Regions from separate parts of the Homo sapiens genome. Here region 2 is linked to region 1. The links come from fine-mapping of genetic effects on gene expression. A gene starts in region 1. The other region holds a variant in brackets. All regions are shown on one strand. Distances are from middle to middle.

What was found. PIP is the estimated chance that this variant, and not a neighbour inherited with it, causes the effect. A credible set is the group of variants that fine-mapping cannot tell apart.
Region 2: its variant is the best candidate, but not a certain one, in a credible set for the expression of GALM in whole blood (INTERVAL, PIP 0.89).

The regions. Positions count from the first base shown.
Region 1 is chr2:38,663,586-38,667,972 of GRCh38, forward strand. It overlaps GALM (galactose mutarotase), which reads left to right and starts at 2,529. Exons shown (of 7, transcript NM_138801.3): 1 at 2,529-2,766. The coding sequence starts at 2,577. RefSeq lists enhancers at 2,281-2,793, 2,794-3,306.
Region 2 is chr2:38,705,920-38,710,306 of GRCh38, forward strand. All of the region lies in intron 4 of GALM (galactose mutarotase), which reads left to right. All of the region lies in intron 1 of LOC124905993 (a long non-coding RNA gene), which reads right to left. Among named protein-coding and RNA genes, the nearest start is that of GALM, 42 kb to the left of the region's middle. RefSeq lists a silencer at 3,895-4,095. The variant C/CA (reference allele first, on the strand shown) is at 2,187.

The sequences.
Region 1 (4,387 bases):
CAGCCTCCAGAGTAGCTGGGACTACAGGCACATACCACCATGCCTGGCTAGTTTTTTTTTATTTTTATTTTTAGTAGAGATGGCGTTTCACCATATTGATCAAGCTGGTCTCGAACTCCTGACCTCAGGTGATCCACCCGCTTCTGCCTCCCAAAGTGCTGGGATTACAGGCATGAGCCACCGCGCCCAGGCCTCTTTACATTTTAGGGAGACATCATGGTACATTCATTTTCTACCAAATGGAGTAAAAAGAGCTTCCGTAGAGACATTTAGCATTGGGCAGGCAAATACATTTATTTCCTTCTGTAACAGCATGTGCTTGGCAGAACACTGAGAACTGGAGGTTGAGAAAAAAAAAAGTGGTCTTCCTGCTCACTTTTCTAAGACATCCTTGCTAACACAGCATTGCCAAAGGGCTTGCGTGTGAATCACCACAAAGTTAAGTGGCTGATGAAACTGAGAGTTTATGAGAATTTCTGATGAAGCAGCACATAGGAGTGCCTGTCGGTTATTGTATGAGTGTGATGCAGTCTATAATTTGACTTGTTTGGGTCTTTTTATTATTATACGTTGAGCTTCACTGAAGCCTGTTGCAAGCTTTTTTATTTTTCCTTTGCTATCAGAATTCTTCTGCTTCATGATGGAGAATTGAGGCTTTATGGCAAGAATGCTAAATATACCTTAAATTACAGACAGAAGAAGCTGAGAGATAGTTATTATGTTTTATTAGCATCTGATTCCAGGCACATAATCCCAATTCTCATAATTTCCTAATCAAAGATGCATTTCATTTCTGCACTCACCCCAGTCTAGTTGGATACCCTCTGAAGTACCCAGGAACCAAGCCAAGAGCAGTATCAAGAAAAGATAGATGATTATGCAGATGGCTTGAGTAAAACTTGTCTTTAGGCTCCCAGCATCCTCCCACTTCCTAGGCTCAGTACTCCTCTAAAGTTGCCAGACTTAGCAAGGAAGTACATAGGTGCCTGTATGTTATCTCATTAAGGCCCTTAATAGCTTTATCTTAATCCTTCTGCCATCAGAGCCTATTTTTTTGGGGAAAAAAATTCAGATTACTCATCAAGCCTTAGAGCAATATTTCTCTAAATCTGGTCCCAGATAATCTGCAGAAGAATAACTTGGGAACATGAAAAATGCAGATTCCTGAGTTTCACCCTAGACTTCCAGAATTAGAAATTCCAGAGGTGGGGACTGGGAATATGCATTTTAAATGTCCTCAGCAAATTCTGAGACACAATCAAGCAAGACAATTATTTAATAACCTTAGTGTCTTTCCTCTCCAACTGTACATACCTGAAGACTCCATCCTACTTGTAGAAAAGGAGATAACAAAGGTTCAGTACCTGGCATTTACAAGGACCTCAATCAATACTTGTTCCCTGAATCCCTTCTTAAAGGAACTGTGGACTTCAGGAGCCAGAAGACACCAGAGGTCCCTTTCCAGTCCCTTGAAGTAAAATAAGTCTGAGGCTGTCTCTAATCACCTCCGCACACCGAGGGCCTAATCCATCTACCTGACCCTGTCTGGTCCAAGCTCCTCGAGGCTGGCACAGCTTTGGCCGTCAGGAGAGCCTTCTGGGCAGTGGCTCTAACAGAACCATGTCCAGGACTTCATCCGTGGGACAAAAAGAGTGAATCTTCAGTAAGTCTGTGTGCAGAGAAGCCTGAGATGATTTACCTCATTTCTAAGCTACTACTGTACTTTGTTGTTGTTGTTGTTGTTGTTTTGAGACGGAGTCTCGCTCTGTCACTCAGGCTGGAGTGCAGTGGCGTGATCTCGGCTCACTGCAAGCTCCGCCTCACGGGTTCACGCCATTCTCCTGCCTCAGCCTCCCGAGTAGCTGGGACTACAGGCCCCCACCACCACTCCCAGCTAATTTTTTTTTTTTTTTTTTTTTTTTTTTTTTTTTGTATTTTTAGTAGAGGCGGGGTTTCACCGTGTTAGCCAGGAAGGTCTCAATCTCCTGACCTCGTGATCCGCCTGCCTCGGTCTCCCAAAGTGCTGGGATTACAGGCGTGAGCCACCGAGCCGGCCAACTACTGCTGTACTTCTTACCCCCTGTATCAAAGAGTTAAAATCTAATTTTTTCCCAAGATCGGTCTCACTGTAAGTCTGCTATCTGTATTTTCCCATTCTTCGTCTGATAGCCACCGACATTAATGACCAGCTCATTACATGTTGAGGTGTGGGGAGATGGGGGTAGAACCCCGTCAACCCAGGATTCGAGTTTAGAAAGACTACAAGCCCCAAAATGCAATTTCACCTCCCAAAAACTACCATTCCCAACATGCAATGCAACCAGGACGAGCCAAGGAAAAAAAGTACAAGTGTGGCTGCAAAGTTTGCCCCTCTTGTTACCCTCAGGCAAATGATTGATTTAGAAAGGCCCCAGGGGCTATTTTTTGCAGGAACGGTCACTCCCTAAATCCAGGCAGGGAAAGGGAGGAGTCTGAGCCGAGTCACGCCCCTTCTCCTGTAAACTTGGGTCGCCTCTAGCTTAGCGAGCGCTGGAGTTTGAAGAGCGGGCAGTGGCTGCACACGCCAAACTTTCCCTATGGCTTCGGTGACCAGGGCCGTGTTTGGAGAGCTGCCCTCGGGAGGAGGGACAGTGGAGAAGTTCCAGCTGCAGTCAGACCTCTTGAGAGTGGACATCATCTCCTGGGGCTGCACGATCACAGCCCTAGAGGTCAAAGACAGGCAGGGGAGAGCCTCGGACGTGGTGCTTGGCTTCGCCGAGTTGGAAGGTGGGTTGAACTGTGCCCTGGGCTGCGAGCAGGCCCCAGGCCCACGCTACATACCTCCCGGATCTAGCGGGCCACTTGCAATGCGAGGGACCAAGGGGGAAAGTCGCCTAGCTTGGGACCGTCTGACTTGCAAGCGCATGCATCATAGAGGGCCGTGTGGCCATCCAGCATTTGGGAAAAACTGTAATAAATAAACTATGGCAGTTGGCCTCTGGTTATCCGTTCAGGCTTTGCCCCAGTTAACGTAAAAGGTCAGCTGATGGTATGATACACTTCAGCGATCCTGGAGCGATCTTTGAACTGCCTAATCTTTGAACTGCCTGATACCTGGAGAAGGCTGGAGAGGAAAGAGCAGGCAAGAGGGGGTGTGGCTCCCACTTCTTCCCTTCTGAAGAAGGAAATTCAAATACTTGCCTCTTCTACTTCCTTCTTCCTTGATCAGATTCTCTTTGAGGCCTGGTTGTCTCAGAAATGCTCCACTAAGCTCAGTGGTTGCCTAGTACACCAGCTACCCAATAACCATTTAGGAACAAAATAGAGAAGACCAACTCAGTGTCTTCTCAGAGATCAGGTCTCCTACCAACTAGGATGGACTTTTATCCCAGAATCCATGGGCAATTAGGATCAGGCATTAATTAATACATTTGACAACTCTATTAATCCGATGACCTCATTAAACAGGACAGACAAGGTCCCCACTCTTGCGGTTTGGCTGGGGAGATAGACTTTAACTCAGTAATTGCATAAATAAAGAATGACAATTGCAGCTTGATTGCAGCAAAGGAAAATGTACATCATGCTCTCTTAGCACCATGGTGTAACTAGACAGAAAATGAGGTGTGAAATAAAGCTGGCAAAGGGAAACTGAGAGTTAATACTCTCTGCTCAGTGGTTGGGGCGTAGACAAATTCTGCTGGAGAGGAGGTTTGAGGTTTTCCTTTTGGTGTGTCATTCTGTCTGTTTGGTTCTTCCGATACGTAAGATATGTAACTTGGCTCATGGTTACATGTTGGCCAGACCAGCCTGGCCAGCATGGTGAAACCCTGTCTCTACTAAAAATACAAAAAAATTAGCTGAGCATGGTGGCACGTGCCTGTAATCCCAGCTAGTCAGGAGGCTGAGGCAGGAGAATAGCTTGAACCCAGGAGGCGGAGGTTGCAGTGAGCCAAGATTGCGCCACTGCACTCCAGCGTGGGTGGCAGAGCGAAACTCTATCTTAAAAAACAGAGAGCAAATTTCAATTCCTCAGGGAAAAAAACAAAACTCAGCTTTCTGTTGAACACCACCATGCCCGGCTAATTTTTTTGTGTTTTTGGTAGAGATGGGGTTTCACCATGTTGGCCAGGCTGCTGGCGGGCACCTGTAATCCCAGCTACTTGGGAGGCTGAGGCAGGAGAATCACTTGAATCTGGGAGGCGGAAGTTGCAGTGAGCCGAGATTGCGCCACTGCACTCCAGCCTGGGCGACAGAGTGAGACCCCATCTCAAAAAAATAAAAATATACTCTAACCTTTCCCTCTGCCTTTCTGTGTAACAGCTGACCATAAAGAAATTAAGACCCTCATTCCAGAGGGGTCCTGCCCCATACCCGGAGGAAGAAATGCTGCATGGGGAGGCCAAGA
Region 2 (4,387 bases), 42 kb after region 1:
AGTGGTCCAACTTCCCGCTCTGGGTTCAAGCTATTCTCCCACCTCAGCCTCCCGAGTAGCAGGGATTACAGGCGTGCACCACCACATCAGGCTGATTTTTTTTTGAGACAAAGTCTCACTCTGTTGCCCAAGCTGGAGTGCAGTGACACGATTTTGGCTCACTGCAACCTCCGCCTCCCAGGTTCAAGCGATTCTCCTGCTTTACCTCCCAAGTAGCTGGGATTACACGTGCCCGCCACCCTGCCCAGCTAATTTTTGTATTTTTAGGAGAGACGAGGTTTCACGATGTTGGCCAGGCTGGTCTTGAACTCCTGACCTCGTGATCCACCCACCTCTGCCTCCCAAAGTGCTGGGATTACAGGCGTGAGCCACCACACCCAGCTGGAATTTTAACTTTAGATCATGGAGGGCTTTCAAGCATTCTAAGCTGGGAACTGACCTGTCAAGATTGGCATTTTAGAAATCTCACCCCAGGTTGGGCGTGGTGGCTCACACCTGTAATCCCAGCACTTTGGGAGGTCGAGGCAGGTGGATTGCTTGAGCCCAGGAGTTCGAGACCAGCCTGGGCAACATATCGAGACCCCATCTCTACAAAAAAAAAAAAAAAAAAATTAGCCAGGTGCGGTGGCCCACACCTGTAGTCTCAGCTACTCGGGAGGCTGAGGCTCAAGGATTCCTTGAGCCAGGGAGGTGGAGTTTGCAGTGAATTGTGATCCAGCCTGGGTGACAGAGGGAGATTCTGTTTCAGAAACAAAGAAATATCACCCCAGCAACTGTTCTGGTGGGACTTGACTGGAGACAGAGACCAGTTTAGATGCTGTTGTTGGAGCTGGGCACAATGGTGTGTACCTGTAGTCCCAGCTACTCAGGAGGCAGAGGCAGGAGGAACACTTGAATCTAGGAGTTCAAATCCAGTCTCGGCAACATAGTGAGACTCCATCTCTTTAAAAAAAAAAGGGGGGCGGGGGGGTCGCTATTTTAATAGTCCAAGCAAGAGATGAGACCCAAATTAAGGGTCAGGTGGAAGAAGGCAGTTTAATCATATTTAGGAGGTAAAACTCAGGAGGCCTGAATTGAATGCATAGATGAGGAAGCAGGAAGGCTGTGTGATGACCCCGGGACTCTAGAGCAGCTGCTGGGCAGTAGAGATGGGGATGTTCAGTGAGTTGTGAGTAGGGGAGGAGGGGGAGCTGGCATGGGGGGCTGGGAGAACTATGGATTTGATCTTGAAATATTTGAGGTTAGGGTGCCTGTGGGGTGTACATCTCCCCTGTACACCTGACCTTACACTTCCAGCAGCTGGATGCATGAGTGTGACGTTAGAGAAATGACAGCTGGAGGCATACATCAGCGTGTACTTTGTAGATTAAGCCACGTGGATTTACCAGAGAGGAATCATAGACTGAGGAGAGCAGTGGTCTGAGGACCAAACCCTGGGAAACTCTAGGAAACAACCACCAATATTTAAGGTCCAAAAAGGGTCTACCTTAAAGTGCCAAGGGAGATGGCCAGGGGTAGAAGGCAAAGAAGGAGAAGAGGTGTCTAGAAGTCTTGGAGTGACCAACAGTGTCAATACTCCAGGGAGTCAAGTGGCAGGAGACCTGGGAACCTGCATGGCTGTGGTGGTTGTTGTCCTGACCCCGTTTAAGAATGTAACAGAGTGGTCAGGGCAGAAGCCAGACTGTAACCGTTTGAGAAGTGACAAAAAGTGAGGAAAGATTCAGGAATATAGGCCAATAACTGGTTCCCAACTAGGCAGCTTTCTTGAATACAGAACCCTGCCAGGCACAGTGCCTCACGCCTATAATCCCAGTCCTTTGGGTAGCTGAGTCGGAAGGATCACTTGAGGCCAGGAGTTCAGGACACAGCAAGACCCCATCTCTACAAAAAAAATATAAAAATTAGCAGCCGGGTGTGCTGGCTCATGCCTATAATCCCAGCACTCTGGGAGGCCGAGGTGGGTGGATCACTTGAGGTCAGGAGTTCAAGACCAGCCTGGCCAAAATGGTGAAACCCTGTCTCTACTAAAAATAAAAAATTAGCGAGGCGTGGTAGCACACACCTGTAATCCAAGCTGCTCGGTAGGCTAAGGCAGGAGAATCACCTGAAGCTGGGAGACGGAGGTTGCAGTGAGCCGAGGTCATGCCATTGCACTCCAGCATGGGCAACAGAGTGAGAAACTGTAT[C/CA]AAAATTAAAATAAAATAAAATAAAATAAAATAAAATAAAATAAAAAAGCCTGGCATGGTGGCTTGCACCTGTAGTACCAGTTGCTTGGGAGACCGAGGCAAGAGTATCTCTTGAGCCCAGAGAGCTAGGGGCTACAGTGAGCTGTGATCACGCCACTGCACTCCAGCTGGGTGACAGAGCAAGACCCTGTCTCTAAAAAAATAAAAATAATAAAAATAAATAAAAAAGAATCCTGGGCCCCACCTCAGAGATTCTGATTCATTTGCTTTAGCACAGGGCCATGGAATCTGTCCCAGCATCCTAGAAGCTACCTCAGTGAGTTAACAGAAAGGACTGGTATTGAAAGTGCTGTCGCCTGGGCACAGTGGCTCAAGCCTGTAATCCCAGCACTTTGGGAGGCCGAGGCGGGCGGATCATGAGGTCAGGAGAGCGAGACCATCCCAGCTAACATGGTGAAACCCCACCTCTACTAAAAATATGAAAAATTAGCCAGGTATGGTGGCGGGCGCCTGTAGTCCCAGCTACTCAGGAAGAATGGCATGAACCCGGGTAGGCGGAGCTGGCAGTGAGCAAGATCATGCCATTGCACTCCAGCCTGGGTGATAGAGCGAGACTCTGTCTCAAGAAAAAAAAAAAAAAAAAAGAAAGTGCTGTCAACAAGCTGTGACAAAGAGAAGGCTCCTCTGTGAGGCAGGGAAGTGGGGTCAAATAACAGTTTTTTTTGTTTGTTTGTTTGTTTTTTGAAGGAGAGGAGCTGATTTAGGACAAGTAAAATGGTTGTCAGAGAGCAGAGGAATCCAGGGAAGGCTTGAGACCGTGAATCTGTGGTGGCCTCTGCCGGTGCTTCTGTGGGCTTTCTCCAGCTCTCTCGGCAGGGCGGAGTCAGGAGCAGAGAAGGCAAATGGTGGGATGACCTGAAGTTGGGGTTTTATCAGAGAGGAGGAGCAGGAGGACAGGGTGTAAGGCAGATCAAGGAGTGTTACTAAGGGTCTCAGGTCCTAGACAGTGGGCCTAGACAGGTAGGCAGTGAGGGTTGTGGGGGACAGGGAAGACGCGTGGCAAGGGGCCCTGAAAACCAGGGGAATATGGCAACATCAGGGGCCTGGCAGTCCCAGGAGGGGAGCAGGTCTAGCAGGAATGCCCTTGTGCCTGTGCAGGAGAGCAGCAGGACTAGGAGGCTGCAGACAGACAGTGGGTAACTGAAAGGTGAACTTTCTACTAGACAGCAAATCCCTGGATGTCATCCTGATGGATCTAAGATGAAAAATACCCCACCATGAAAATGCCTTACGTGGTCCCAACCATGAAGCGTAAAATTGCCTTTTCACCTGAAAACGACCTGCAGCTTGGTTTAGCATTTTATGCTTCGGATGTCATCTAACATCCAGAAGCAATACCCTCCCCCGTTGCAAGTCAAGGTAAAATCAGAAAATGCTCGGTGGAAAGGAAAAAAAAAAAAAACATAAGACAAAAAGCCAGCAACAGAATAAAGCCGCAAACCCAAAGCACCAGCAGAGGAAAGGGAAAAAAACCTGCAGCATAGACAAGCTTTGATGTTGTGTGATCTGTGAAAAATGTATAGAAATGTTACCTTACCAAAAAATTCCCAAGGTGCTTTACTTGCCAACCACTGGAAGGAAGTAAAAATTCCCACCCAGGGTGTTACTTTTAATTATCATCCTCTTTATGTTGTTTCCTAAAATAACAACAGGCATTCTAGAGATGATTTACGAAGATGGCTTAATGAGGTGTCAGATGAGTACCTGTGCCCATGAGCCCCTTTACCGCAGGCCTCCTTATGCAAATTTGACTGACTCTTCTGAGCCCGACTAGATAAAGAAACAGACATAATTGGAGCAGCTGGGCTGGAAGCACAGCTGGGCTATCCTCATGGAGACCAGACTCTAGCACCACGTGCTCTTCCTGCTGCCCCAGTGTCCCTCCCAACTTTTGCTTTTCAGAGCAGCAGCCCACCTGAACCTGGGGCTTCCTCAGATGATCTCCACATCAGTGCTTGTCAGCATTCATGTGCACACAGATCACCTGTGCAACTTGTGAAAATGCAGATTCAGACTCAGTGGCTGGAGTGGAGCCTCTGGATCTATGTGTCTAACAAGCCCCTGGGTGATGCATGTGGTCATCAGATGGTCCTAGGTCCACACTTGGAGGAGCTATTTAGAGCCTATAAAATAGTTACTCC